4 linked regions of the Homo sapiens genome follow. The protein of the gene in region 4 interacts with the protein of the main gene of each other region in a biochemical or structural test. Each region holds a gene or a part of one and is shown on either strand. Other genes may lie near its edges. The genes, in order: NRG1, PAK2, PAK6 and LIMK1.

Region 1 (7,522 bases), on a different chromosome or scaffold from region 4:
TTAGAATATGAGAATTTTCTCATGCAAAGGCTCCTCCCTGAGCAGTTAGATAGACATGAGTTTGATTTGTTTTATTGACAGAATAAGGGGAATGAACCTAACTTGGCCTTCTCCTCTTTTAAAATTATGAATCCGTAAATTGTGGGCCCAATGGAAAGTCATTAGCGGATGGTATAAGGAAGCTTAGCATGGCCAGGTGTCAACTGGCTGCCTTTTAGGCCACTATGGGCCATTGGACTATTTGAACCATGAGAGCATTTTTCGTTACCTTTCGTGATTGAATGGCACGTTGACATTTTCATTAGTCTGAAGGAGTTTCTTACTGCCACTACAAAAGATAGCAACAGCCAGGATCCAGGCAGTCATGCCCTAGAATATTCTCTCTCTGTTATTGTGTATGGAGGAAAAAGGAAGCATAGTACTGTCTGGTTGTGTGGCCTCTTCAACAAGGAAGAAAGTGATAAACAGCATTGGTAGGGAGGAGATGATTTGAGAACAGGTGGTGTGGCAAAAGCAATGGACAGACAAGAAGCAACGTATAGACAAGGTGATCATGGGGTCCATGGAACACAATCCTAAATTAGCATAACTATGGGAATGAGATGAAAGGTGCTGGTCTAACAGACTGAAGCTGTAGTCTGCTGAGCAACACTCCCAGGTCTCCACAGAGTAGCATTTTTATTGCAGTATGTCTTTCATGGAAAATGGACAAAACTTTAAATAAATCACAATTACTTATTGCTTAGTATTTTGAATAATAAATTCTTTAGTTTATCAGTACCTCACGGCCTTCAATGTGCATTCTTCAGATAGTTTCAGTTACATATACATTCTTTCTCCTGAACAATAAATTATTCTTAAAAAAAAGAAAAGGAAAAGATACATAATTTTAAAGCAAAGAAAAACAAAAGAACATATATTTTTGACATTTATCTTAAACTTATATGAAAACAACTCTATATGTTAGATGCTTAAATATAAATAATAAAGGACATTATGTTATTTACAATGTTACATAGTAAGTTGAGAGAGTAAAAACTGACATTAACTCAAAAAGACAGTAAATGATATAAGAAAACATCCAAGTAATATACAATATGTATTTACAAAAGAATATATAATAGAACTTGTGATATGTGGCCATTTCCTTCTGCCTACATTTCTCTTCAGTGTTTCATAGGTCTTCGCAGATAGAAATCTCTGGCTGGTGGAATGCAGCCAGTATTATTAATACAAGATAAGACCAGGCCTTCCTTATTTTCACCAGTGTGAGCCATGCGCCCTTTAACCCCAGGCCATAAAAAGGAATAGTTAGTGAGCAAGTTACCCTGGATAAACTTCACCTCTAACAAGACAGTCACACTGAAACAAGAAAGTGATAGCAGGTTTGGGACACATTCACCTACACAGAGGACCATTTTGTAGAAACTAGAATGCTGTCCAGGCACTCTTGGGGGCAAAAGTCACACTAGGCAGGAAGGGAAAGTAAGATAGAAAGTGAATCTTAGGTGAAACAAAAGGAGTTTTGCATGTATTTGCATGTATTATGCTCCACTGCATACACCTCAGTGGGATACGATTTTAGACCCGGGAAACAAAGTTGCTGTCAAACTCCTGGGCAATTTCTACTACCTTAAAACCTAAGATAGCTTTCCATATGCTGGGAACATAAGTTCACACTCCGATCGCCACTGCACTGTCGGAATTTATTAACAGAGGTGGTCAAGAGTGATGTGACAAGCATCACAGAGATACCCCTGTAAACACAAATCTAGTGGCCTTGGCAGGTGATGCTGAGCAGTCAGCTGGCCTTTTTTATGAAGGGTGCAAAGGATGTCCCAACTATAATAATATGCCACCTCTGTGAGTGATCAGAATCAAGTTAGAAATACAATTTCCTCTTGTCTTCAATTTTCATATATATTTGCAATTTTAAAATGCATAGCAATTCTCATTGTAAGAAACATGTTGCTCATGGTTCTCAACAGAAACTTCTATTTATTCTTAAAATTCTTCCACAATGGGATATCTGAGTACCCCAATGCCCAAAGAATTTGAAACAGAATTTTTAGGGTTTTAAATTCATGGTAGGAATTTCTTCATTGAAATAGCTAAGGATGAGTCAAGGCCTTCAAAGGCAATGTTAAAATAATTTAGAGAACTTCATTGGACTGACTGTCTTCTTCCCCATGCCGTGAGCTTACTCATTACTGCAGAATTGGAAAATCAGTGCAACCTGACAAAGACTCCTCAGTGTAGGTTAAAAAGCAAATGAGGATACCACTGTGCACAGAGAAAGTGGCATGTGAACAGTGACGAAAAATTTGAGATACCAAATACTAACAATAACTTCAAGAACCTGCAGACAGGCATCTCTGTGGATTGTAGGAGCATGTGGGAGGGTAACAACATGACTCATGCCCAGCCTGCATTTTTCTGCTAAGACCTACTTGCATGTCATTTCTTCTTTTTAATTGTTAACATCAAGATTTGGTGAAGAAATACATTCAGTTCACCCGCAAAAAAGAAGCAATTACTCTCACTGACTTCATGAATCCCCCGATAACCTGTTTCCCATTTGTCCCATGGTTCCTAGGAGGCCATGTGAATCCTAAGTAAAGCTCCAGCCCTGATTTCACAGATATCAGGCAGGCCATGAAATGGGTTCTGTGTTTCAAATAATTTTTTTTCTTCCATTTTCCTGAATTAGCAGTTATTTCAAATGTTAATACTTATAGGCCTTCCTTTGGATTTACCATCACAAAAGAACATGCAATGCTTAGACCAATCTTAGTCCTACTTTATGACAGTAAAGCAAAAATTAAAGGAGGTGGGGGAAATGGGTGAGAGAGCCTGTAAATGGAGAGGTCAGGACACAGGTGGGGGTCACTTCTGCAAGTAAAGGTGCAATCTTTCCAACAGGATTGACATTTCCTGATGAATCATTACTTGTGATTACAAATCACATACACATCGGCCATTCCTGATAAAAAATGTTCATGCATAGTTATGACCTGATCAAGGCAACATGGAAAGATAAAAGAAAAATAAGGGGGAGAAAGGGGTGGTCATCCACATTTTAAAATTTCAACGGAGTCACTAAGCTTCTCTCCACCTATACAGTCACTCCTTCTGAACACTCTACGATGGAAATACTTCCCTATGATGACAAGTCATCGCTATGTACAGCAGGCACGTTTGACTCTAGAAGTATTTCAGACAAAATGCTGCATGTGCTGTCTGGGCTGGGCTTTTTGTGCCGTAATATGCTTCTTTTTGAGCCAAGAAGACACAACCAATCACTAGCTTCAAAATCAGTGAAAAATACATGTCAGAAATGATTGCACCTTTATCAGCCGTGTTTTGATTGTCAACTAGATAAGCTGCTGGATCATTCCCCCAGAGAGAAAGTGACACTCAGTCCTCTTGTAAGGTGTTAGATTTACCCTGATAGCAAGCCAGAACCCATTTTCTAAGCTATCCCTAAAACTGTTGCTTTTTGTCAAGAAAAATAAAATCAAATAAAGTAAATGAGAGCTCCTTTTAGTAAGAGCAAGCTGTCTTCTGATTAATAATATAGTTTTTTTTAAATCACAGTATTACTTTCTTCCTAATATTTAACATTACTTAATGCAGTTTCTTGCTGTATTTAATAGTAGCATGCTGTTGGATCTACTATTATCTCAGAGCCCAATGAGGCAAACCTTTGGCTGGCAGAGTAGACACAACTCATTTCATATTCTGAAAGCAAAGAAAACTTCATACACAAGAGAGGCATATCTGGATGGATGTGCCATTACAAGACATACTGATCGGGTGCTACTACAAGCAAACAGAGGGACAGTTGCAAGTCTTGCAAATCATACATCCAGTCAACATCATAATGCAATGCACAAGAAGCCAGCAAAAACTGAATCTATGAGAGGTTTTGCAGAAATACTGTGGAAAAGCAATCACTGTAACTGTACAAAACTTGCTCTCGACATAACATAACATAAAGGCACCATTGATATCTTTCTCGTTTTGAAATACTGTAAAAAATTGCTACATATGGCACATAACACATTTTTACATACATATATTTAATTTATAAAAGTTTTTTTCCTGTTTTCTATTTGCAGAACTGCTAAAATAAAATAAATTGTTTAATTTAAGGTGGAATACTTTATTATATAAAATAAAGTTTTACAGGTGAATCTATGTGTTTATTTAGGTTTTATACAGCAATAGGGTCTTGGTTAGCAATTACACTAGACAGCCTGGCCTGGATTTCTTCCTGTGTCGAGAAGCGGCCTGCTGGGTTAGTCCTGCTGTCAGCCAGGCGGAAGGCAGGTGTTGCCTCAAGACTGGCTGCCAGGGGGTTCTGTATGCCCAGGAAAGGCGTATCTTCACCTACTCTTTCATCTTCTGTTTCACTCTCTGAGTTACTGCTCTGGGAGCTTGTGTTGCTGTCCACTTCCAATCTGTTAGCAATGTGGCCATTGGGCTTGGTTCTTTTGGCCCGCCGGCTATTGGCGAGTTTCTTAACAGGCTCTTGGGCTGGCTCGTACTCTTGGGTCGTTTCATACTCCTCATCCTCCACTATCCTCAAGGGGCTAGCAGGGAGGCTGTTACTGTCATGCGCGGGGTTGTGGTGGAAGGAGCTGAACTGCTGAGGGTGATGGTCAAACTTCTTCTCCCGCAGCCTTGGTGGTGTCACGAGAAGTAGAGGTCTCTCTTCTTCCATGAAGGGGCTGACCGCCATGGAAGGCATGGACACCGTCATGCTGGACACGGGTGGAGACATTTCCGAAGGGGGCGATTTGGGGGAGCTTGGCGTGTGGAAATCTACAGGTGACATACGAGCCGGGGTGGTCATGGCTGACACATACCTGTGTGAGCACAGAATACCCTGCATAAGTGTGGTGCAATAAGAGGCACATAGCAGGGAAGGTAAGGGGACAGAGTTCACGGTATTATATCATCAGAGAACAGAGAATTTCTATTCATTGTAGGCTGCTTAATTATTTAGGCTAGGAAATTCCACACCCTTGGAATCGAAAATTAGGTAGCCAAGAGTTTCCTCACAGGAGTGCATGCAAAGATCAGCTAAATTGCCTAGCTCATCAAAGCTTTTGGGATTTTCAATCTCATCACAATTATAAATAATGGCATATGAGCCAAGACAAGAAGGCATTAGGTCCTGGAAACCTCTCAGCTTATATAAGGACCAAGGCTCAGGGATTCGGAAGGGAAAGAAGTATTACTTAAATACTATACCTTCCTAAAGGCCAAGGGGTCTTAGAGAATGAAGCCCAAATGGGGAATGGAAGAAGATCTAAGATGAGTTGCTGATAGCTGGATCTGCATGCATTTGGATCTGTGTGCCTTGTTTCTCCTTAGCTCAGCTATAAGGTTATGTCTTATGAAAAAAAAAGAGCATAGTAACTTAGATTTATTCCTGACAACAGTGTCATACATTTGTGTGCTTTTCATTTTTTCCATGAAATGCAACTAGTTAACATTCAATTTGGAACTATCCATCCCAGTGTCCAACAAACACAGTCAAAGGTAAGCCTGAGAGAACCTAATTTGGCTTCACAGTTACCACAATGGAGGTTATGTCCAATCTTTGGTCTATCTCTCTTCCAAAACCCACAGCTATATCAGTCTTTGGTCAATCTCTTTCATGATGCCTCAAGGGTTGGCTGTACCCTGTTACCTTCTATCATGTTATGTCTGATAATGCTCAGTGACTCTTGCCATTAGGCCACCGAGCACACTGTTTTCACCACACCATGCTTTCTTCCCCCAGTATAAGAAGTCCTGACTTTTGGCACTGAGGAAGACGTGGCTTATTCAGAGTCACATTTCTCAGCTTTTGATAAAAAATGTTACCAACGCACAACACTAAATGACTCTTTTCTTCACACTGGCATTCACAGAGTCTAATTTGACGTGACCTGAAATGACATGGAATGCCATCATCTGAACTCTTGCTAACAGGAACGGAAAACGTATGAACCTCCCTGCTTCTCCCGGAGTCACAGTGATACAGACGTGAGAGCTAGCTGCCTCTAAACTGGGAACGTGCCTGAGAAATTGAAATATGTGGGCCTTGAGCCTTCAAACTTTTGGCTTTGGGGGTACTTAAATTAAGCTCTCTGAGAAATGCTAATTTAAATTCAACCAACATATAAAAGTGATTCATCTTTTCTCTCCATAATCTCTAGGTTCAGGAATATTTCGTAGTCCTAGATATCATCTAGAAGCCCAGCACAGTGGGGAAATGTCAACATTTAAGGATAAATATCACTTGTAGTGATGAAGAATGATTTCATCTCTAACTTCCTTTTCATGTTTCAAAAAACGATTGAAACAGAATGGATAGACTTCCTTAATACATTAAAAAAATATGAATTTAAGACTAAAGTTTTAAAACAGTTTAAACCCTGCCTACTTTTTCATAGATTGGTTGCAGGGAAACCTCTGATTTCATAAATTCCATAACGTTCTAAAATATCATTTTTGGGGAAAGGCCCTTGAAGAAGTAACCAACAGGCTTGCAAGTCCAGAATGTTTTTTTTTTTTTTTTTTTTTTGAGGCGGAGTCTTGCTCTGTTGCCTAGGCTGGAGTACAGTGGCACCATCTCAGCTCACTGCAGCCTCCACCTCCTGGGTTCAAGCAATTCTCCTGCCTCAGCCTCCCTAGTAGCTGGGACTACAGGGCAGCACCACCATACCCAGCTAATTTTTGTATTTTTAGTAGAGATGGGGTTTCACCATGTTGGCCAGGATGGTCTTGATCTCCTGACCTCGTGATCTACCCACCTCAGCCTCCCAAAGTGCTGGGATTAGAGGCGTGAGCCACCGTGCCCAGCCTGTCATTTTTTATTGTAAGTACTCCCCAGTCCATGAGTGGGAAGAGTCTATGAAAGTCATCCCTACCCATGGAACTACCACACAAGTATGAATTTGACATTATGTAAACCTTTTAGTAAATGGTCAAGGATTAGACTAAGATGACAATAAAATAAAATAAAATAAAATAAAATAAAATAAAATAAAATAAAATAAAATTCAGCGGACTTGCAAACAAACAGGTAATAGCTTACCTCTGATTTCATAAATTCCACAAAGTTCTAAAATATCATTTTGAAGGAAAGGCCCTTGCAAAAGTAAGCAACAGGCCTTCAAGCCCAGAATGTGTTATTTTATTGGAAGTAACTTCCCAGTCCAAGAGTGGAAAGACTCTATCAAAGTCATCTCCTCCCATGTAACTACCACATAAGTATGGATTTGACATTATGTAAACCTTTTAGTAAATGGTCAAAGATTAGCCTGAGATGACAATAAAATAAAGTAAAACCCAGCAGACTTGCAAACAAATAGGAACAGGTAACAGCTTACTGATGGGCTAGAAATACTGGTCATCTTCCAGCTCAGGTGAAAATGGAGAAAGAGAATCTATGAATTCAATATTACTATTTAATATCTCTTTGTTTACTTTCCTCCATTCTTCATTTTACCTTTGCTATAACTCC
Region 2 (7,736 bases), on a different chromosome or scaffold from region 4:
TTTTTTGGGGGCAATGAGGGATTTTTTTCCTTTCCTATTCTGCTCTGTTAAGGCACAAAAAGGATACTAGGAAGAGCTTGGACACACAATTTGCAATTAACACCCTCCCTCTGATTAGTCTGGAAACTCAACTCTTATACCAAACTGATGGAAACCTTTACGACTTAAAGTCTTGAAGTTGACCCAGTTTCTTTTTCTTTTTCTTTTTTAATGAGACGGAGTCTCGCTCTGTAGCCCAGGCGGGAGTGCAGTGGCGCGATCTCGACTCACTGCAAGCTCCGCCTCCCGGGTTCATCACGCCATTCTCCGGCCTCAGCCTCCCGAGTAGCTGGGACTACAGGCGCCTGCCACCAAGCCCGGCTAATTTTTTGTTGTATTTTTAGTAGAGACGGGGTTTCACTGTGTTAGCCAGGATGGTCTTGATCTCCTGACCTCGTGATCCGCCCGCCTCGGCCTCCCAAAGTGCTGGGATTACAGGCGTGAGCCACCGCGCCCGGCGAAGAAGACCCAGTTTCAAATTTTAACCAAAAGTGTAAAAGTCAGAAAGCCAAAAGAAATATACTCAAATATTATTATAATAATAATCGATTTTGATGGATAAAAGGAAGAATCTAACAATTCCTACTCATTTTATCCTTGGCTACTTGAAGTTCTTAAATATTAGAAAAGTATAATTGAAAGTTTATCTTTAGCTACCTGAACAAGTTCTAGTCTCTCTTAAAAAGTATAATTGAAATAGAAACTGTTGGTGGTGTGCCGTGGCTCACGCCTATCCCAGCATTTTGGGAGGCTGAGGCGGGCAGATGACCTGAGGTCGGGAGTTCGAGACCAGCCTAACCAACACGGTGAAACCCCATCTCTACTAAAAATACAAAATTAGCCGCGCGTGGTGGCGCGTGCCTGTAATCCCAGCTACTCAGCAGGCTGAGACAGGAGAATCGCTTGAACCCAGGAGGCGGAGGTTGCGGTGATCGCACCATTGCACTCCAGCCTGGGCAACTGAAACTCCGTCTCAAAAAAAAAAAAAAAAAAGAAATATTAATTGTTAACCGCATCTACTTGGGAACCTGTCTATCATAAAGATCAGAGAGCCCTATCGCCTGTATACTCGAACTATAAACTTAATTTTGAATTTGGGTTTGCAAGGTTAGTATTAAATAGCACGGAGTCCAGAATAGTATCTCTCTCTGAATGAGAGTAAACCATAAACCAAGGCCCTAAGGGAAGTGAAATACCCAGGAACTCTTCCTTCATAAAAATATCTGCTGATTAGAAGAAACTGGCAGAGAAGCCAACATCTACAGACCAAGTTTCAAACTCCAACAAAACTCCAACCTTTCTACACCTTAATCCCTCAGGCCAATAAAACATCCATTAAGTTAAGGACAACTGATACTACTATTTAAGAAATGATGACAGTATTGAAGCTGAGTATTGGAGCCACTTTTTTCAGAGCCTTGCTGGAGGGAAAGGTAACAATGGGCTACTTAGTGAAAACACAAAATACACTGAATTTAGGTCAACCTGTTACCAAATCGGAAAGTTGGTTTAAGACCTACATCTATTACAGGTTCACTTTCCGTAATAAGTGTCAATCAATGTGCTTGGCTAATAAGTAGCTCGAAAGATTTAATAGCCGAGGATGACACAGTGAAAAAGTTGCCTGAAATCCATACTCCTAACAGAACATGAAAAAGGCTCTTCATATATACACGAGCATGAGTGGGCTTTACAGAAGCCACAGACCTTCTGGCAAAGTTGACAAGTTTTAACCTGCTTTAAAAATTACTATTCACTGCCTTCATCCCAATGTAACTTTACTGAGTGTTATTCTATTGGACAACCCTACAAAAACAAAATCCCCAGAGCAAATTCTTGTACATTTCAATATCCTGCCTACTTATAAGAGCGGAAGAGTCGAACACAGCAGGGGAAAAAACGTGACGTGCACAACCTTGATCCAAAACACAGCTCTTCGTAGTTTAATTTTAGGCCTAACCATTTTGTCTTTTTATAAAGGTTAAAAAAGAAAACAAAGAAAGGACACATCGCCTGTAACGCAGAAGTGAGATAATGATATCAACCGGAGTTCGTTATTTATCAAGGGACAACAAATCACGCTCACACTGCCCAGGGAGAGTACTACTAAAATTAAGATACAAGGATGGGTACAACCTCACACCCACTGACGATGACACGCTTCTGTTCTTGGATGACTTATCTTTAAAGAATTAGTTAAAAGGTTGAGTGGCAACGTTTTGTGTTTGTGCGTGCGTGTGTTTCCAAGAGAGCCAAACATGGTGAAAAACCAATCTTAACTTCACCTAAGTTATCTAAAGAAGCAAATTTCACCCCTAGGCTGAAGCTCAAACAGGAGCGAGGAGAAGCTCCGAAAGATCAGTTCGTAAGCGGTGGCCCTCAAGCGCCCGGGACGCTCTACGTTTTTACCAATGTGGAATGTGGAAAAGAGGTTACAGGCTGGAGCTGAGAAAACAGTCAAGCTACTCGCGACAATATTCCTGAGCAGTGAAACGGGTGAACAGAGAGCGAGCAAGCAGGGGCTGAGAATCAGTGAGAGGAAAAATCAAGGAACAAAACCGGAGAGTCTGGTCCAGCATTAAGAAAACGGAGCAAAGGAAGAGGGTGAAACGCGAGGGGAGGGAAGACCGAGAGTCGGCAGAGACCGTGGTGCCGCGAGGTTCAGAGCAGGGCTGGGTCCAGGAAGAGTCAGACCTCCGCAGCCCAGCGAGCTTCCCATTTCTGGCTAAAGCCAGCGAAGAAAACGGCCCTGGGGAGCAGACAATGAGCCACCGCCCCAGGAGCTGCGGCTCCCAGCACGCAGGTGGCGGCTCCCCGGCCCCGCGCGGGGCAGGTCGGCCGTCCCGGGCCGCTCCCGCCCGCCAGGCCACGGAGAAGGAAGGAGGAGGAAGAGACCCGGCCTGCGTCCCGCGCCGGCCGGCCTGTGTGCACTTACCCCGGGCAAGGCAAGGTCCCCGCCCCAGCGAGGCGCCTCGGTCAGAGCTCCCGGCGGGCTGCGGAGCCGCCCCGGGCTAGCGCGCGGTGCGGGGAGGGGAGGGGAGGGAAGGGGAAGCGGGGCGGGAAGAGACGCCGCGCTGGAGCAGCCGCTGCTACCGCTAGGCCCAGCGGCGGCGGAGTCCTGCGCACGCCAGGGAGGGGAGGGGAGGGAGCCTTCGGCAATGGCGACGGCCCGGGCCGGAGGGGAAGCGGAACAACCGCCGCCGCTGCGCGTGGCCACAACCCTGGGGGAGGAAGACGGCGGGGAGCGGGGCGGGGCGGGGCCAGAACCCAGAACCCCTCCCGCCCCGAAGCCGGAGCTCCCCGGGGCGGAGACGAGCGCCACCTCCCATGGGCAGGCCCGCGCGGGGGCCGCTGGGAGTAGTAGTTCGGTGATAGACGTTGCTTTTATTCCTTGGGTAGTCTTTGTATTGAGAGGAGCAGCCAGTCCCTCATTTAATTCAGCATTGTCTCCAAGCAGGTCTCTGCCGACGGAAGACGCTGACAGACGATTGCTGTTATACACATCTGCTCCGCGACATTTGTTTCTGGGAATTCATCCGTTATCCATTTTGCTTTTTTGCTTACAAATTCTTAACTAAAATTTTGCTGCTAAATTAAGTATCACCTCCTTGCAAATTAAGACTTCCCTATTTTATCCACGGAGGAGTTCATCAATGTTTCACTTATTCTACAAATATTTGAGTGTCTGATATGGACTAGACACTGTTAAGCATCAGAAATACAAGGGTGGTTCAGGTGCGGTGGCTCACGCCTGTAATCCCAGCACTTTGGGAGGCTGAGGCAGGCGGATCACCTGAGGTCGGGAGTTCGAGACCAGCCTGGCCAACACGATGAAACCCCGTTTCTACTAAAAATACAAAAATTAGCTGGGCATGGTGGCACGCATCTGTAGTCCCAGCTACTCGGGAGACTAAGGCAGGAGAATCGCTTGAACCCAGGAGGAGGAGGCTGCAGTGAGCCAAGATCGGGCCACTGCACTTCAGCGTGACAGAGTCGTCATGCCTCAAAAACAAAACAAAAAACACAAAAGAAATGCAAGGGTGAACACGATTCACCAAGCCTTTGTGGAGCTTATATGAGGACGCAGTAATTAAAGTAGTCACACCTGGTATAAGAAAAAACTTGGCGAGGTTACTTTGGATAGGGTGGTCGGAGAAGGCCTCGTTAAGGAGGTGACACTTAAGGCAAGAACAGAAAGAGACAGCAATAAGAAGCACCCAGAGAAAAGCAATACAGGCAGGAGAAGAAAGAAAAGGGCTTGCTACGGTCAGTTAAGAAGGCCTGTGTAGCTGGGGCCTAGAACAAGAAGGCGGTACTATTAAGAAAACACTACAGCAGACAAGATTCAGGTCATGAAAGATCCTGAATGCCATGGTAAAAAGTCTATATTACAAAAAACCATTAAAAGGCTTTTTTAAGCAGGAAAGCGATGTTACCTGGCTTACACTTTAAGATCACTAGACTGCAATGTGGATAATGGAGTATAGAGATGCAAGAATAGAAGGGAAATAAAGTAGGAAGGCAGTGGAAAGAAAGAGGAATTGTGCTTCTCTATCAATGTAGAGCAAAAAACTCAATTGATGCAGTGGGTACAGGAGAGAAAGGAATCAAGGAGCAACATGGCACAGTAAGAGATAACCTGAAAAATGCTCTGATTATTAAACACACAGAAACACTGGATAAATAAGACATCCTTTCAAAGGCATAACTTGCAAGAATGAAAATAGAATGTTTCTGACAGTCTTCCAAATTTCACACTCAACCTGAAGAAGGGGCAGGACACCAGAGTGGTAAGCAGGGCAGTGAAGCCATGGTTGTGTTGAGGGCACCTACTTATCTCAGAAATCTCTAGAGTTTTAATAGGTGCACAGGAAACTAAAGACAAGGACTTGGGCCTATACAAGAAGTCAGGACTGTGATCCTGCATAGGACTGGAAATTCAAGGCGCTATACCCTCCAAGAACAGACTGGGGGGAAAAAAAACCCTATGCTAGCCCAGGGAGACACACAGGACATTTGTTTACTTTGGCCTGCAGTGGGCTTGCAGGGCAGAAGAAAATTTTCCCTTTAGAATTAATAACCCTTTAGAATTTTCCCTCACTAAGGTTTTAAAGTTCAAATTTGTCAAGAAAGTGGTCCCAGGCTGGAGTTCTGGGGGGCCTGGAAGAAACAAATACAAATCCTGACTGCACAGGTGTACCCTCAACCTCGGTCTCAAAGGATTTCACAGATAAACAGGATTTCCGAAGCCAAACATGAGCACCCGAAATACAATACACCTGAGGAAATAAGCAGCGATGAGTGAGTCAATAGAAACTACAAAGAACATAATGAAACCCACACAGACTTTAGCTGCTGGAATTGATGGCTACAGAATATACAGTACGCCTATTTAAATGATTAAAGAAAGTAAGACAGGAGCTAGAAAACACGAGCAAGAAACAAGATGCTTTTTTTTTTTAACGACCAAACAGCTTTGAAAATGAAATAAGTAGGCCAGGCGCGGTGGCTCACACCTGTAATCCCAGCAGTTTGGGAGGCCGAGGTGGGCAGATCACCCGAGGTCAGGAGTTCGAGACCAGCCTGGCCAACATGGTGAAACCCCAGTCTCTACTAAAAATGCAAAAATTAGCCAGGCGTGGTGGTGGGCACCTGTAGTCCCACCTACTCAGGAGGCTGAGGCAGGAGAATCACTTGAACCTGGGAGGTGGAGGTTGCAGTAAGCCAAGAACATGCCATTGCACTCCAGCCTGGGCAACAAGAGCAAAACTCCGTCTCAAAACAAAAACAACAACAACAAAAGAATTAAGTAGAATTTCTAGAAACAAAGAATAACTGAAACCAAAGCCAATGTTTGGTTAAATAGCAGATTACACACAATTGAAGAGAAAATTAGTAAACTGGAAGACAGACCAAAAGAAATTACTGAGAACAGCCTAGAGACAGGAAAAATGAAAGCAAGCTTAAGAGACATGGGGATAGATTGTTAAGGTCTCTACCATACTCCTAATGAGAATTCCAGGAGAGAAAAGAGAAAAACCAAGAGAGGCAGATAATGATGAGATAATGGCTGAAAAATTTCCAGAATTGATTAAAGACAGGAATCTTCAGATTCAGGAAGCAAACTGAATACCAAGCAGGATAAGTAAAGAAATTTCAAACACATGAAAATGAAACCGCAGAATACCAGAGATAAAGCAACCAGAGAGAAAAGACATTCTGTACAAACAACTATTACATTCATAGCAGATTTCACAACAGCAAAACGGGTGCCAGTCAATAATGGTATATTTTCAAAGTACCAAGAGAAAATAACCAAGCTTAGAAGTGTACAGCTACCGGCTGGGCACAGTGGCTCACACCTGTAATCCCAGCACTTTAGGAGGCTGAGGTGGGCAGATCACCTGAGATCAGGAGTTCAAGACCAGCCTGGCCAACAACGGCAAAACCCTGTCTCTGCTAAAAATATAAAAAATAGCAGGGTGTGGTGGTGTGCGCCTGTAGTCCCAGCTACTTGGTAGGCTGAGGCAGGAGAATCACTTGAACCCAGGAAGCAGAGGTTGCAGTGAGCAGGGATCACACCACTGCACTCCAGCCTGGACGACAGAGCAAGACTCTGTCTCAAAAAAAAAAAAAAAAAAAAAAGTGTACAACTACCTAAATTATCCATCAGATGAGTGAGGATGAAATAAATATATCATCAAACATAAACAAGCTACCAACAGAGACACACTAAAGGAACTCCTTAAAAGGTATATTTCTTTCTTTTTCTTTCCCTTTTTTTTTTTTTTTTGTGACGGAGTCTCACTCTGTCGCCCAGGCTGGGGTGCAGTGGTACGATCTCGGCTCACTGCAACCTCTGCCTCCCGGGTTCAAGTGATTCTCCTGCCTCGGCCTCCCGAGTAGCTGGGATTACAGCCGCATGCCACCACTCCCGGCTAATTTTTTGTATTTTTAGTAGAGATGGGGTTTCACCATGTTGGCCATGTTTACAAGATAATACAAACAAAACCAGAAATGTTCTGTTATACTAAAAGTGATGTCATCTGCAACCATTTATCTAAGCAAGAAGAGTTATATCAAAGTTTTCTTCATTCACATTTTTATTACACTTCTGAATATTTGTATAAGTGAGTAAATGGCTGAACCACATTCCAAGCCACAATCTTAAATATTTTAAATACTGATGAAACCTGGTTGTGATGAGCAAAAACAAAAACATTCTGTATACACATACCCCCACATACTCTTAAGATGTTAAACAGTACCGTGTTCCCTCCCCGTCTAACCATATTCCAAAACGTTGCCTGTCAATCTAACCATATCCCAAAACAATGCCTGAATTGTAGCTGACATATATAATTCCATTTCAGTGTCATATTATTAATCCCATAGTGAAAGAAATGTTTCTAAAACATGAAATTCTTTCTTACGAGAAAGCATGAAATAGGTATGAAACTATACTGGGTTGAAATTTTAGTCATTTTAAAGGTCACTGTTTCTGCTTTATGGCACTGGGTTACCTTTTCCAATATTTAAGTCTCAAATACACGTTTAAAAAGAACTGTTAGGACTAGTCAGGTCATACATGTCAAATTATACAAGATGTAGTCCCATGAAAACACCAAAATACTTTAGGAAATGGAGCAGTGATGGCATATACAAAGGTTTATCACATCTCAATACTCTACATAAAA
Region 3 (7,522 bases), on a different chromosome or scaffold from region 4:
GACTGAGGCTGTGATACCAGGTCCTGGGAACAGAGGTTCCATGAGACGTCACCAGGCAGGGACAGGGAGGGAAGTGGGGCAGGGCTCACTGCATCACACAGTCAACCTGTAGAAAGGCTCGGGGCTCTAAGGAAGCTGCCTGCTGGCCTGAGTGTGGACTTAACTCAGAAAACATGCTCTCCAGGCACCCATCCAGGTGGGTCGGGGCAGAAGCTTGGGGACCACCTAAAGCTCCTCCTGAGGTGGCTCTGATGACCTCTCATCCTGAAGCTCCTAAGAAAGGCTGTAAAATGAGATCATTCCCCTCCTGGCCTTGAGGGCTTCTGCATGGGCCAGCTCTACTCTGAGGATGTGTGGGTACCACGTGGACAGGCTGAGGTAGGGGTTTCTTCCCTGTCTCCACAGGCCAGGTCCCTGTGCTGCTGCTGCTGCTGCAGGTGCTGGCTGGGCTCAGGGCGGAGCCTGCGTCTGGAGGCTGGGGGAGGGATGGCCCAGCCAGGAGCCCAGCACAAGCAGAGTCTGGGACATAGGCTGGGGAGTCTGGGGAGCTGGCTTGGTCTTCAGCCTGGCAAGGTCTGGTCTCTAGCATCCTTTCGTTGGCTTCACTGCCTGTCTCCACAGGGAGGGAGCTTTTATCAATGTAATCACAAGCAAGGACCAGATGAAACTTGTGAGGCCACACAAGAAAGGGAAAGGGGGACACGACAACAGAATTAATTAATTGTTACAGGCTCTGGATTAATTCTGAAGTTACTCATGTGATAGACCTCTTGGGAAGAAAGCCACTAGAAGAGTCATGCATACATTTACAGCAATGCCTCATTTCCCGCCCTGAGCCATGGCTCCCCAGCTGTGGGCTTAGGGGGCTATACCTTAAGTATCCTAAAGGGGAGAGGCCATGGCATAATATTTTTAAAAATAATAAAGCCGGCCTGGCATGGTGGCTCAGGTGCCTGTAATCCCAGCACTTTGGGAGGCCAAGGCAGGTGGATCACTTGAGGTCAGGAGTTCAAGACCAGCCTGGGCAACATGGTGAAACCCCATCTCTTCTAAAAATACAAAAATTAGTTGGGTATGGTGGAGCGTGCCTGTAATCCCAGCTACTTGGGAGGCTAAGGTGGGAGGATCACTTGAACCCAGGAGGTGGAGGTTGCAGTGAGCCAAGATTGTGCCACTGCACTCCAGCCTGGGCGAAAGAGGGAGACGCCATCTCAAATACTACTAATAAAGCCATTTATTGAGGGCTTACCACTTTGACAAGTGCCTTCAACGTACTATCTCATGTAATCCTCATAACCCTGTGGGTTGTTTGGTTGTCCTGTAGGCACTGGAACCCGCAGGACGCCCGTGGCTGCTGACTCCCATGCTGCAATCCCACTGGTGCCATGTATCCTTGACATATATCGGAGTACACGGTAGGTGCTTAACCAATGTTTGCCCTTCTGACTCTAAGTGGAACATGTCTAATCCCTGCAAGCTCCTAAAAAACTGTCTTGCCTCTTTGGTCTCTGTGCCCCCACGCCCTGTCTTCCTGATCTCTTTAGCTAGAGTGACTCCAGGCCTCACTGCCTGGGGCTAGGTACAGGAGCCCTGGAGTCTATACTCAGACCCTCCTGCAGCCATGCCTGGCACACTGCATGGCCTCTGTGGCCTAACTGCTGTTATGGAAGCTGCTGCAAGTGTCCAGAGTCAGCCCCAGTGCCAAGGGCTGCTGGCTTGATCTGGGGACTCCTGGGGTAGGTGGTGGTGGAGGAGGAGGAGGAAGGCTGATGCTCCCCATCTGTTATTGAATTTGCTTAAGGCAGTGGTTCTTAATGGGTGTGCTCGAGTGACATTTGGCAGTGTCTGGAGGCATTTTTGGTTATTCCAACCGAGGGTACCACCAACTTCTAGTGAGTAGAGGCCAGGGAGGCTGCTACAGTGCAAGGAGAGCCCACCACAAAGGATGGACTGACCTGAGCGCCTGCAGTGAGGACGCTGAGAAGCCCCGGCCCGGAGCAGCTCGGGGGGTCTCAGCTTGCCATTGAGAGGCTTGGCTTCAGAGTAGAAATCTTGAAAGATGTGTCTGAGTTGCCCAGAAGGAAACCACTCCCCTGGATTTGGAAGTATGGTGTTGCTGAGCTCGAGATAACTACCGCCTGCTCCCACAAGTATGGGGGACATCCCGGCATACCCAGCAGCAGTGGCCCATGGTGAGTACTCAGTACATTGTGCAGGGATGGACAGGCCTCTCCCCCTGCTGTGGGGTGCTGGCAGGAGCCCAGAAAGATGCAAATGAGTGCCCAGCCCAGTGTTGACAACCCCTTTCTCCAAATCCCTGAGGCCTCGCAGCAGGACTCCTGAGAGACAGAGGGAGGTCAAGCTCCGAATCTCACCTTCCCAGCAGGGTGCACTGTCCTGATCTTACGTTGGTTTTCTGGCTGAGTCTCCCCAGGGGCACAGCCTTCCAGACACCCTGCAGCTCACAGATGCTCGTGTTCCTCTCACAGATACATCAAGCCACAACCCATGGGGATCCCAACCCACTGTCCTTTAACCTAGTAGGGGACTAGAGTGCACAAAGCTCAGAACTTTCTCTTTTTTTTTTGAGACGGAGTCTCGCTCTGTCTGTCCCCCAGGCTGGAGTGCAGTGGTGCGATCTCAGCTCACGGCAAGCTCTGCCTCCCGGGTTCACGCCATTCTCCTGCCTCAGCCTCCTGAGTAGCTTGGACTACAGGCGCCCGCCACCGCGCCCGGCTAATTTTTTTTGTATTTTTAGTAGAGACGGGGTTTCACCGTGTTAGCGAGGATGGTCTCGATCTCCTGACCTCGTGACCCATCCACCTTGGCCTCCCAAAGTGCTGGGACTACAGACGTGAGCCACCACGCGCGGCCGCCCAGAACTTTCTCTGAGTACCTCAGCTGGCAGGCAGTGACCCAGAGAGGTTGTAGTCCGGGTCATCCCCAAACCCACACCCTGTGCAGGCTGGGCCACACTCACCCCACCGATGACAGGGGAGTACCCAGGCTTGTCTTAAAGCCCTCCCAGGAGGGAGGGGAGGCTCCATTACCCATGCCACTGTCAGCAGCCGTTTCTTAGGACTGCCTTTGACCCTCCCAGGAAGGAGCTAAAGAACAAGTGGCTGCTGTGCTTGTAAAGCCTTCATACGCAAGAGTCATGAGCCAAGAGGGCCCGGGCCGGACAGGCAGCCCCAGAGCACTCCCCACCTTCCTTCTCTGACTCACTCTCCATCATGCCTGGGGGTGACTCACCCTCTCTCTATCAGTCTCCTCCTCTGCCAAATGGGAAAAGAGGTTACTGTCACTATCAACAGGATGCTGGAGGGCCTGGAAGAAGCAAAAAGGTGCGCTCCACTCTGCCTGCCAAGAAATGTCACCACGGGGGCTCCCTTCACCCTTTCCTTTCTCACAAGAAAAATGTGCGTCTGAAGCAGTCACACATGCCACAAGTCGGCCTCCTGCTGCCCCTGGACTAGGCAAATCCAGCTTTTCCTATGGCCACACACTTGGGAACAAATACTGACAGAAATGGGAAACAACACAACAGCCACAGAGAAAAGAAGGAAAGGAAGGGAGGGAAGGAGGAGGCGAGCCACCCTCCTTAGAGAAGAGGTTACCGTGCACATTTCTGCCGCCTTAGGCGGAAGCAGTCCAGGGAGCCTCTTTGCCAGTCCTCCAAGGGGAAGGCTAGGCAAGGCCTGTGTCCCTACACCCACTCCCCAGTGGACACCTGCAGGCCAGGCTCCTGACTTACCTTGCTCTGTGGTGGAGGGCCTGGCTTGCTGCTGCTTGGAGGGGCTGTGGCAGCAGTGGACAGGAACATGCTTCGGAATAGCCTGCGCTTCAGGCTGCTCTCCCGGGTCTTAGGGCTAGGGCTGCCTTCCCCACCTGGCCTGCCTGTGGCTGAGCCCACCAGGCAGGACTGTGGCCGGGCCTCCTCAGAGCCATGCTTGGCAGCCTTCATTCCATGCCTATTGGTGCCCGTGGGGGGCGAGGCTCCTGGTGGGGAGCTCTGCAGGCAGGCACCCAGCTGCAGACAGCGCTGCGAGGCACCCTGAAACTCGGCGGGGCCCAGGGACTGTGCCTTTGCAGCCAGCCCATTGGGCAGGACCCGTGGGCTCTGTGGCTCGGGCCACGGCATCTGCTTGTGGCCTGCTGGTGTGCCCCCGTTGCAGCTGAGGTAGAGGCCGTGGGGGTCAGTGCGCTCAGACTGGGGGCTCTGGAGGTACATGTCTGGGTCGGTGGCCCAGTGCTCATCCCCCAGCAGCCCCAGGGACTGTGCCCGCCGCCGGCTGGTGGGGCTGCGGCCACGCAGGGTGTTGGAGCTGATGACTGACAACTTCTGGATGTCGTTGAGCAGCCCCGAGATGTAGCCATCCACAGGCATCGCGCTGCCCCGCACCACTGTCTGTAGGGGGAAGAGAAAAGAGTGTGTGGGAGCTGCCCAATTGTGGCAGGGAGGGGTGGCTGGGAGATCAGGGTCAGAGAATGTCCCTGGGGGCCCTGGGGAGGACCACCTAAGGACCTTCCCTGCTGTGTCATCCACCCATTAATTTTTCCATAATTTATCAGGGCCCACCGTGGGTCCCGCCTGTGCTGGATGCAGGGATGCGGGGAGAAGGCCCAGCGTCAGCAGAGCAGATGGTGAGTGCCATGGGGCTGCATCCAGCATGCCCAGGGGTGTGGTCGGCTGGGCCAGGGAGCTGGAGCTCAGGGGGCGGGGCTCCATTCTCTAGCTCCACGGGTGGCTGGGAGAGATGTGCCCAGCCCTCTGAGGAAGAGACACCAGGCCGGGGGCTCCTCCACACACACTGGCTTCGCAGCCTCCAAACCCTGATAGGGCCCCTGACCCCACCTTCTACCAGGCTCTTGGGTCTACTAGTCGTGACCCTCACAACTAAAATTCTCCTGGTCTGGGAGAGCCCTCAGTCCCTATGGGGCTGCAGGTCCAAATATTGAATGGGACACGTCCTAAAAGACTATTCGTTGTCATCTGAAATACAAATGCAATTGAGCATCTCACATTTTCATGTGCTGAATCTGGCAACCCCACCACCCTGCAGAGAGGGTCTCCCCAGCCTCCTTCGCCCTGGCTTACCCAGGGAGAGAATGGCAGGCTGACAGGCAGGGAGTTAAAACAGCTGATTAACTGATAGCTGTGAAGTAGGTGGTTCCTCCAGGGGCCTTTCTGAGGTTTAGCCAGGCATGGTTGTCTGAGTACTGGGAGAGGCTGAACCTCATCCCTGCCGGCCCCTCTTACCTTCATGGGCTGGAGCTGCACCCGTGTGATTCGCGAAGGGTCCACCACGGGCTTGGGGCGCCGCAGTGTGTCCAGGATGTTCTGCCATTGTGGGGGGAGGCCCACAAACTTGCCTTCTTTGGGGTCGAAGGAGGTGTGGACACGGTGCTGGAAGTTCTGTGGCGCTGAGATCTCAGGGCGTTTCTTCTTTTTCTTGCGGAACATGGTGCCTGTAAGTGCAGAGTAAGGTTGAGCTCCCTCCCGGGAAAGAGGGGTGGCTGCAGCAGGGCCTGGGGCACCAGGTTCAGGGCTCCCTCCCCTCCCCCAGCACAGCTCCCCTAGAAGCCTAGGGCTTCCCTCCACCTCCATCTCTGCTTCCTCAGGGAAATGGCTGGCTCCCAGCAGAACAGTCCCAGAAACAACAAACGTGCCATAAATAAGCCAGTGCAGACTATAAACAAGGAAAAGAGGTGTCTTCTTGCCTGTGCCAAGTCCCCTATGGAGCAGGCAGACTCTGGGGGTGTGTTTTTATAAAATCCAAAGCCCATTACAAGTATCATTCCACTGTCTGTCAACGAATTTTAAAAATGGGGAAAGAGGGAGGAAAGTTAGCAAGCTTGTTTTATGAAACGAGTATGACCTTGATTCTTAAAACCAGATAAGGAGAGTGCAAGAAAAGGAAAATTTGACTCAATATCATTTAGGAACGTAACTATGAAAATCTTAAAACTATCGAATTGAATCCAACAGTATATTAAAGTTATTTTTTTGTTGGCTTTTTTTTTTTATTACAACTCAGCTTTGTCCCAGGATGGTTGAACCTGTTAATATGATACGTTAATAAAAAGCCAACCAGCTGATCACAGACATGCTGCCCGGTGTGGGACTATTATGTATCAGGGAGCCCCCAAAGGGCCTTCATGGTTACCATGTGCTTTACCTCAATTCCAGAAAGGCCCTGAGCCAAGAGGATAGCCTGGGGTGGGTGAGGGGCAGCTAACTTAGGGGTAAAGCTCTCCAGAGAAGGCAGAGAGCACCACCTCCCCTTGACACTCTTCTCTCTGGTATTGGAGCTCTATGTAAAACATCACCTGGGCCGGGCATGGTGGTTCATGCCTGTAATCCTAGTACTCTGGGAGGCCGAGGCGGGTGGATCACCTGAGGTCAGGAGTTTGAGACCAGCTTGGCCAACATGGTGAAAACCTGTCTTGACTAAAAATACAAAGAAATTAGCCGGGCCTGGTGGCACGTGCCTGTAGTCCCGGATACCCATGGGGTTGAGGGAGGAGAATCGCTTGAACCCAGGAGGCTGAGGCTGCAGTGAGCTGAGATTGCCCCACTGCACTCCAGCCTGGGCAACAGAATGAGACTCTGTCTCAAAAAACAAACAATAAAACACTTAACCTGCAATCAAGCCTGTGTCCCGTGCCTTGCTGATTCTGGCTTTGCCTAAGGTCGTGCTGAGCTGCATACACAGAAGTGACACAGGCTTGCAATGGATAGCATGGGTAGATCTGAGAGTGGGGAACTGGGGGCCTGGGAAGGGGAGGGACACTTCCAAAGGGTTGCTCTAGTTTCGCCTTCAGGGGATCCCGGACCTGGGATCACATGTTGATGGCAGACAGGGCCAGGGCTGCCTCTTGAATGCTTTTGGATCTGAAGAGGCTCAGAACAGCTCACTGGGTTCTTATGTATCTGAAAAGGTCACTTCCAGGCTTCAAGAAACTGAAACATGATTCTTGAACTGAAAGCTTGGATTACTCATCCGCCCGAAGATCTGGAGTGCAGGGCCGTCATGTTCTCTTTTGGCTCTTGCTATGGAAACAGCATTTTCCTAGTCATTTTGGCAGGTTCTGAAGGAGGTCGCAGATCTGGGAGGCAGCTGGCAGAAAGGCAGGGACCCTGGACAGCCAGTGGTTCCCCACTAGGAATTCACCATGCGTGACTCAATCAGAGCCCACGTCACATCTCAATGTCAGCCATGCTTCTGGGTCTTGAGGTTCGGGATCCACCGAACACCCCCTAGAGGTAGAGCCACATGTACAGGACCCTTACAGACCAAGCCCTTTGGAATAAAACAACCTGTGTGAGTTGCAGATGAGTTGTAGGGAGTCTCCCACTAATAATTTGGAGAGATTTTGAACAAATAACTGAAATGATCTGAGCCAGGGGGGTTAATGAAAGACAGCTCATAGGGTTTAGGGTGTGTGAAGTAAGCAGAGTCCCCATACATGACGGTTGTTTCTCTTGTGATGTCACCTCTCTTTGAATCCCTGTCTTGAA
Region 4 (7,522 bases):
TGGGCATGGTGGCAGGCGCCTGTAGTCCCAGCTACTTGGGAGGCTGAGGCAGGAGAATGGCGTGAACCTGGGAGGCAGAGCTTGCAGTGAGCTGAGATCGTGCCACTGCACTTCAACCTGGGCAATAGAGCAAGACTCCAACTCAAAAAAAAAAAAAAAAAGATAAAATTGGGCCAGGTATGGTGGCTTACTCCTGTAATCCCAGCACTTTGAAAGGCTGAGGCAGGTGGACCACTTGAGGCCAGAAGTTGAAGACCAGTCTGGGCAACATAGCAAGACCCTATCTCAATCAGTCAATCAACCTAAATAAATAGTAAATCTGGTGGCATGCCAAGCACAGGACCTGGGTCTATAATCAAAATTCCTGTCTTGATGGGCACAGTGGCTCACACCTGTAATCCCAGCACTTTGGTAGGCCACAGTGGGTGGATCACCTGAGATCAGGAGTTCGAAACCTGCCTAGCCAAGTATGGTGAAACCCGTCTTTACTAAAAATACAAAAATTAGCCAGGCATGGTGGCAGGCGCCTGTAATCCCAGCTACTCGGGAGGGTGAGGCAGGAGAATCGCTTGAACCTGGGAGGCGGAGGTTGCAGTGAGCCGAGATCGCGCCACTGCGCTCCAGCCTGGGTGACAGAGCAAGACTCCGTCTGAAAAAAAAAACAAAAGAATTCCTGTCTTCTCTCCGAAACAAAGCAGCATCAGTGCCCCCGCAGGTGGGAGGGAGCGCTTGCAGGAGGGAGCAGTGGGTCCGCCACGACGGTCTGGGGAGCAGGTGGGGAGGGGGCAGAGGGTGCAGCGTGTGGTGGGAGGGAGGAAGCCACACTGCTATCTTCAGGTGCTTCCCGCAGCTCCATTTGCAAAGAGCGGATGGGTTTGGGGAAGGAAGGGGTCCCCACCCTGTGCCAATACAGCGTATCAGAGGTATGTTCTCTGGGCTGTCTACAGGTTGGCTTGGGGTCCTGGGGAGGGGCAGGCCAAGCGGGCAGTACTAGGATCGGGTCCCAGCATGACCCGGCTTCACCTTCCCAGAACAAGAATGTGGTGGTGGCTGACTTCGGGCTGGCGCGTCTCATGGTGGACGAGAAGACTCAGCCTGAGGGCCTGCGGAGCCTCAAGAAGCCAGACCGCAAGAAGCGCTACACCGTGGTGGGCAACCCCTACTGGATGGCACCTGAGATGATCAACGGTGAGTGGTTCAGCCCTGCCCATCATGGCCCTCACGGGAAGCCATGGGGGAGCCCAGGAGAGCTGTAACCTCCCAAGCCCCTGGCCCCTCCCAGCCTCCTTGGCTCTTCAGTTACCCTGTGGGTCCTGTTGCTCCTATAACACACTTAGTGGCAGCCAGGCACGGTGGCTCACGCCTGTAATCCCAGCACTTTGGGAGGCTGAGGTGAGTGGATCACCTGAGGTCAGTAGTTGGAGACCAGCCTAGCCAACATGGTGAAACCCCCATTCTTTACTAAAAATACAAAAATTAGCTGGGCATGGTGGTGGGTGTAATCCCAGTACTGTAGTACTGTAATCCCAGCTACTAGGGAAGCTGAGGCAGGAGAATCGCTTGAACCTGGGAGGCAGAGGTTGCAGTGAGCCGAGATCGCGCCATTGCACTCCAGCCTGGGTGACGAGCGAAACTCCATCTCAAAAAATAAATAAATAGAAGACACTTAGTGGCTTAAATAAATGATCATACAGTTCTGGAGTCTGAAGTCCAGCGTCAGCCTCACCGGGCTGAAATCAAGACGCCGGTAGGGTGAGCTCCTTCTGCAGGCTCCGGGGCACCTGTTTCCTGACCTTTTCTGGCTCGTGGAGGCTTCCTCATTCCTCCTGTTGCTGCCCCCTCCTCTGTCTTCAGGGCTGGCTGCAAAGCATCTTCTCTTCTCTGATCTCTGCATCCATCCCCGCATCTCTTTCCCTGGCTCTAACCTTCCTCCTTTTTTTTTTCTTTTTTAAAGAGGGTCTCGCTCTGTTACTCAGGCTGGAGTGCAGTGGTGCCACCATAGCTCACTGCAGCCTCAACCTTCTGGGCTCAAACTGTCATCCCACCCCAGCCTCCTGAATAGCTGGGACCACAGGCATGCAACACCACACCCAGCTAATTTTTTTATTTTTTATTTTTTATTTTTTTTTGAGACAGAGTCTCGCTGTGTCTCCCAGGCTAGAGTGCAGTGGCGTGATCTCAGCTCACTGCAAGCTCCGCCTCCTGGGTTCACGCCATTCTCCTGCCTCAGCCTCCCGAGTAGCTGGGACTACAGGCGCCCGCCAACACGCCTGGCTAATTTTTTGTATTTTTAGTAGAAACGGGGTTTCACCGTGTTAGCCAAGATGGTGTCGATCTCCTGACCTCGTGATCCGCCCGTCTCGGCCTCCCAAAGTGCTGGGATTACAGGCGTGAGCCACCGCGCCTGGCCAATTTTTTAAATTTTTAATAGAGACGGGGGTATCACTATGTTGCCCAGGCTGGTCTCAAACTCCTGGCTTCAGGCGATCCTCCTGCCTTGACCTTTCAAAGTGCTGGGATTCCAGGCATGAGCCACCATGGCCCTCCATCCTTCTGATAGGGACCCTTACGGTGACATTGGGCCCACCTGGATAATCCAAAAGCAGCCCTCCATCTCAAGACCCTCAACTTAATCCCATCTGCAGAGTCCGATGGAAGGTGGGACGTATACAAGTCCCAGGGATCAGGACGCAGTCATCTTTGGGGATCATAGTTCTGCCTCCCACAGGGTCTGCTTCCCTCAGTCCATTTCTTTGCTGTCAATGGTCCTATATATGCCCAGATTATAGGTTATAAAGTCCTTCTACAAGCAGGTGACACATGAACACAGGTTCAGGGCAGGCAGACCCCAGCCATCACCTCATCATAGTTAACCTAGTTAAATTAGCCTGGCATGTGGCGTGGTGCCTAATGCCTGTGGTCCCAGCTACTCAGGAAGCCAAAGCGGGAGATTTACTTGAGCCAAGGAGATCAAGGCTGCAGTGAGCTATGATCATACCACTGCCTTCTAGCCTGGGCAACGGAGTGAGACCCTGTCTCAAGAAAACAAAAAATAGGCCAGGCACAGTGGCTCACACCTGTAATTCCAGCACTTTGGGAGGCTGAAGCAGGCGGATTGCTTGAGGCCAGGAGTTCGAGACCAGCCTGGCCAACATGGTGAAACGCTGTCTCTACTGAAAATACAAAAATTACCCGGGTGTGGTGGCACAGCTACTAGGGAGGCTGAGGCAGGAGAATCACTTGAACCCAGGAGCAGAGGTTACATTGGGCCAAGATTGCACCACTGCACTCCAGCCTGGGCAACAGAGGAAGACTGTGTCTCAAAAAGAAAAAAAAAAAAACCTTCCTGTAATCCCAGCACTTTGGGAGGCTGAGGTGGGCGGATCACGAGGTCAAGAGATTGAGACCATCCTGGTCAACATGATGAAACCCCATCTCTACTAAAAATACAAAAAAATTAGCTGGGCGTGGTTGCACGCGTCTGTAGTCCCAGCTACCCGGGAGGCTGAGGCAGGAGAATGATGTGAACCCAGGAGGCGGAGCTTGCAGTGAGCCGAGATCGCACCACTGTACTCCAGCCTGACGACAGAGTGGGACTCTGTGTCAAACACACACACACACACACACACACACACACACACACACACACACACACAGAGTTAACATAGCCCGCAAAGAAGACTATAAAACAGTCTTAGTGGCCGGGCGCAGTGGTTCACGCTTGTAATCCCAGCACTTTGGGAGGCCGAGGCAGGTGGATCATGAGGTCAGGAGTTTGAGACCAGCCTGGCCAACACAGTGAAACCCCATCTCTACTAAAAATACAAAAATTAGCTGGACATGGTTTCGGGCGCCCGTAATCCCAGCTACTCAGGAGGCTGAGGCAGGAGAGTTGCTTGAACCCAGGAGGCAGAGGCAGGAGAGTTGCTTGAACCCAGGAGGCAGAGGTTGCAGTGGGCGACAGAGCAAGACTCTGTCTCAAAAAACAAAAAAGTCTTAGTGTTTCCTATGTTTAGGGATTAGTGTGAGGATTAAAGGTTGTAAACTCATTTCCACCTAGTTGGCATTCAGTAAATGAGAATTGACATTTAGTACTAATTGTTTCGGGTATTTTGTTTTTTGTTTTTTGTTTTTTGTTTTTTCTGAGACCGAGTCTTGCTCTGTCATCCAGGCTAGAATGCATGGTGCGATCTCGGCTCACTGCAAGCTCCGCCTCCCGGGTTCACACCATTCTCCTGCCTCAGCCTCCCACGTAGCTGGGACTACAGGCGCCCGCCACCACGCCTGGCTAATTTTTTGTATTTTTAGTAGAGACGGGGTTTCACCATGATCTCGATCTCCTGACCTCGTGATCCACCCGCCTCAGCCTCCCAAAGTGCTGGGATTACAGGTGTGAGCCACCGTGCCCGGCCAGTTTTTTGTTTTTGAGATGGAGTCTTGCATTGTCACCCAGGCTGGAGTACAGTGGCGTGATCTCGGCTCACTGCAACCTCCACCTCCTGGGTTCAAGTGATTCTCCTGCCTCAGTTTCCCTAGTAGCTGGGATTACAGGCACCTGCCACCATGCCTGGCTAATTTTTCTATTTTTAGTAGAGATGGGGTTTCACCATGTTGGCCAGGCTGATCTTGAACTCCTGACCTCAGGTGATCCACCCGCCTCGGCCTCCCAAAGTGCTGGGATTACAGGTGTGAACCACTGTGCCCGGCCATGTACCGATTATTTTTAACATCATTAAGTAGCTGGTATCATTCCCATTTTACAATAAGGAAACTGAGGCTCAGAGAGTCTGTGTCAGTTTCCTGAGGTTGCTGTAATAAATTGTTAGAAACTTGATTATTTAAAACAGCAGAAAATGGTCAGGCACAGTGGCTCACACCTGTAATCCCAGCACTTTGGGAGGCCGAGGCGGGCAGATCACTGGAGGTCAGGAGTTCGAGACCAGCCTGGCCAACATGGTGAAACACCATCTCTACTAAAAGTACAAAAATTAGCTGGGCATGGTGGCAGGCGCCTGTAATCCCAGCTACTCGGGAAATTGAGGCAGGAGAATCGCTTGAACCCAGGAGGCAGAGGTTGCAGTGAGCCACAATCGTACCACTGCACTCTTGCCTGGACAACAAAGCAAGACTCCATCTCAAGATAAAATAAACAGCAGAAATTTATTCCCTCTTAGTTTTGGAAGCCAGAAGGTTGAAATCCAACAGGGCTGCGCTCCCTCCAGGGCGATCTAGGGGAGAATGCATTCCTTGCCTCTTCCACCTTCTGGTTGTTTTGCATTCCTGGGCTTGTGGCCGCATCACTCCAGTCTCCACCCCTGTCTTCACAGGGCCACCTCCTCCTCTTCTGCTGTGTCTTCTCTGTGTCTCTCTCAAGAGGGCATTTGCAGTGGCATTTGGGGCCCACCCAGATCATCCAGCATCATCTCATCTCCAGATCCTTAACTTAATCCCATCTGCAAAAGACCCTTTTTCTGACCCAGTAACATTCACAGATTCCAGAGACCTGACATGGTTCCCTTTTGGGACCAGCACAGAGTTCATGACTTGTGCAAAGTCACGCAGCTGATCGGTGCCTCGAACTCCTTGTCCAGGGCTCTGCCCCTTGCTCCTCAGAGCTCCCAAAGGCTTGCTCAGACCTGGTGGGGTTGGGGGAAAGAGCCTAAGCCTGGGTTCCCATAGAGGTTGCCGGCATCTGCCTCCTGGGCCTGGACCTCCCGGCCGGGGCATCCTCCCAGCTGGCCTGGTCCCCTGCCTTTTGGCATCCCTGGCACCCCCATGTGTTCATCTGCTGACAGTCGGTCTCTTTATCCAGGCCGCAGCTATGATGAGAAGGTGGATGTGTTCTCCTTTGGGATCGTCCTGTGCGAGGTAGGTCCAGGGTTGGGTAGCAGCGGTGTTGAGGCCTGGGCTCCTCCCCACTCACCCAGGCTGCAGGCTCAGCATCTGCAGGGGCCTCATGCCAGGAAGCCTGCCCACAGCAAGGCATGGGCTGGCCCCCATGGGGTACTGCAGTCAGGCTGCAGCCAGGCCCAGTGCCACCTGCCCTCAAACCACCTGGATGGCACCCAGATGCCCAGGCTGAGGGCCCCCTGGAGTAACTGCCGGGCCTTGTACTGGACAGATCATCGGGCGGGTGAACGCAGACCCTGACTACCTGCCCCGCACCATGGACTTTGGCCTCAACGTGCGAGGATTCCTGGACCGCTACTGCCCCCCAAACTGCCCCCCGAGCTTCTTCCCCATCACCGTGCGCTGTTGCGATCTGGACCCCGAGAAGAGGTGAGTGGGGTGGGGCCCTGGCCTGGGAGACGGTGGGGCCGATTCCCGGGACAGCCAGACCCACCGTTCCCCACCCACCTGTCACCCAGGCCATCCTTTGTGAAGCTGGAACACTGGCTGGAGACCCTCCGCATGCACCTGGCCGGCCACCTGCCACTGGGCCCACAGCTGGAGCAGCTGGACAGAGGTTTCTGGGAGACCTACCGGCGCGGCGAGAGCGGACTGCCTGCCCACCCTGAGGTCCCCGACTGAGCCAGGGCCACTCAGCTGCCCCTGTCCCCACCTCTGGAGAATCCACCCCCACCAGATTCCTCCGCGGGAGGTGGCCCTCAGCTGGGACAGTGGGGACCCAGGCTTCTCCTCAGAGCCAGGCCCTGACTTGCCTTCTCCCACCCCGTGGACCGCTTCCCCTGCCTTCTCTCTGCCGTGGCCCAGAGCCGGCCCAGCTGCACACACACACCATGCTCTCGCCCTGCTGTAACCTCTGTCTTGGCAGGGCTGTCCCCTCTTGCTTCTCCTTGCATGAGCTGGAGGGCCTGTGTGAGTTACGCCCCTTTCCACACGCCGCTGCCCCAGCAACCCTGTTCACGCTCCACCTGTCTGGTCCATAGCTCCCTGGAGGCTGGGCCAGGAGGCAGCCTCCGAACCATGCCCCATATAACGCTTGGGTGCGTGGGAGGGCGCACATCAGGGCAGAGGCCAAGTTCCAGGTGTCTGTGTTCCCAGGAACCAAATGGGGAGTCTGGGGCCCGTTTTCCCCCCAGGGGGTGTCTAGGTAGCAACAGGTATCGAGGACTCTCCAAACCCCCAAAGCAGAGAGAGGGCTGATCCCATGGGGCGGAGGTCCCCAGTGGCTGAGCAAACAGCCCCTTCTCTCGCTTTGGGTCTTTTTTTTGTTTCTTTCTTAAAGCCACTTTAGTGAGAAGCAGGTACCAAGCCTCAGGGTGAAGGGGGTCCCTTGAGGGAGCGTGGAGCTGCGGTGCCCTGGCCGGCGATGGGGAGGAGCCGGCTCCGGCAGTGAGAGGATAGGCACAGTGGACCGGGCAGGTGTCCACCAGCAGCTCAGCCCCTGCAGTCATCTCAGAGCCCCTTCCCGGGCCTCTCCCCCAAGGCTCCCTGCCCCTCCTCATGCCCCTCTGTCCTCTGCGTTTTTTCTGTGTAATCTATTTTTTAAGAAGAGTTTGTATTATTTTTTCATACGGCTGCAGCAGCAGCTGCCAGGGGCTTGGGATTTTATTTTTGT

What was found.
Region 1: the proteins of LIMK1 (region 4) and NRG1 form a complex in vitro, tested with the Homo sapiens proteins (one study listed by BioGRID).
Region 2: the proteins of LIMK1 (region 4) and PAK2 interact in a biophysical measurement, tested with the Homo sapiens proteins (one study listed by IntAct).
Region 3: of the proteins of LIMK1 (region 4) and PAK6, one has a biochemical effect on the other in vitro, tested with the Homo sapiens proteins (one study listed by BioGRID).

Annotation. Positions count from the first base shown.
Region 1 is NC_000008.11:32,761,097-32,768,618, reverse strand, and holds part of NRG1 (pro-neuregulin-1, membrane-bound isoform isoform HRG-alpha proprotein), read right to left. Parts: exon of another isoform or gene 6,598-7,522; intron 5,402-6,597; coding exon of another isoform or gene 5,281-5,401; exon of another isoform or gene 5,260-5,280; intron 4,872-5,259; coding exon 4,217-4,871; 3' UTR 1-4,216. UniProt on the Homo sapiens protein: Direct ligand for ERBB3 and ERBB4 tyrosine kinase receptors. Concomitantly recruits ERBB1 and ERBB2 coreceptors, resulting in ligand-stimulated tyrosine phosphorylation and activation of the ERBB receptors.
Region 2 is NC_000003.12:196,735,396-196,743,131, reverse strand, and holds the start of PAK2 (serine/threonine-protein kinase PAK 2), read right to left. Parts: upstream 3,276-7,736; 5' UTR 2,975-3,275; intron 1-2,974. UniProt on the Homo sapiens protein: Serine/threonine protein kinase that plays a role in a variety of different signaling pathways including cytoskeleton regulation, cell motility, cell cycle progression, apoptosis or proliferation.
Region 3 is NC_000015.10:40,262,728-40,270,249, reverse strand, and holds part of PAK6 (serine/threonine-protein kinase PAK 6), read right to left. Parts: intron 5,470-7,522; 5' UTR 5,465-5,469; coding exon 5,261-5,464; intron 4,409-5,260; coding exon 3,755-4,408; intron 1-3,754. Other genes in the region: BUB1B-PAK6 (serine/threonine-protein kinase PAK 6), read right to left, coding at 3,755-4,408, 5,261-5,464. UniProt on the Homo sapiens protein: Serine/threonine protein kinase that plays a role in the regulation of gene transcription. The kinase activity is induced by various effectors including AR or MAP2K6/MAPKK6.
Region 4 is NC_000007.14:74,114,771-74,122,292, forward strand, and holds part of LIMK1 (LIM domain kinase 1), read left to right. Parts: intron 1-1,031; coding exon 1,032-1,188; intron 1,189-5,812; coding exon 5,813-5,868; intron 5,869-6,121; coding exon 6,122-6,279; intron 6,280-6,368; coding exon 6,369-6,531; 3' UTR 6,532-7,522. UniProt on the Homo sapiens protein: Serine/threonine-protein kinase that plays an essential role in the regulation of actin filament dynamics. Acts downstream of several Rho family GTPase signal transduction pathways.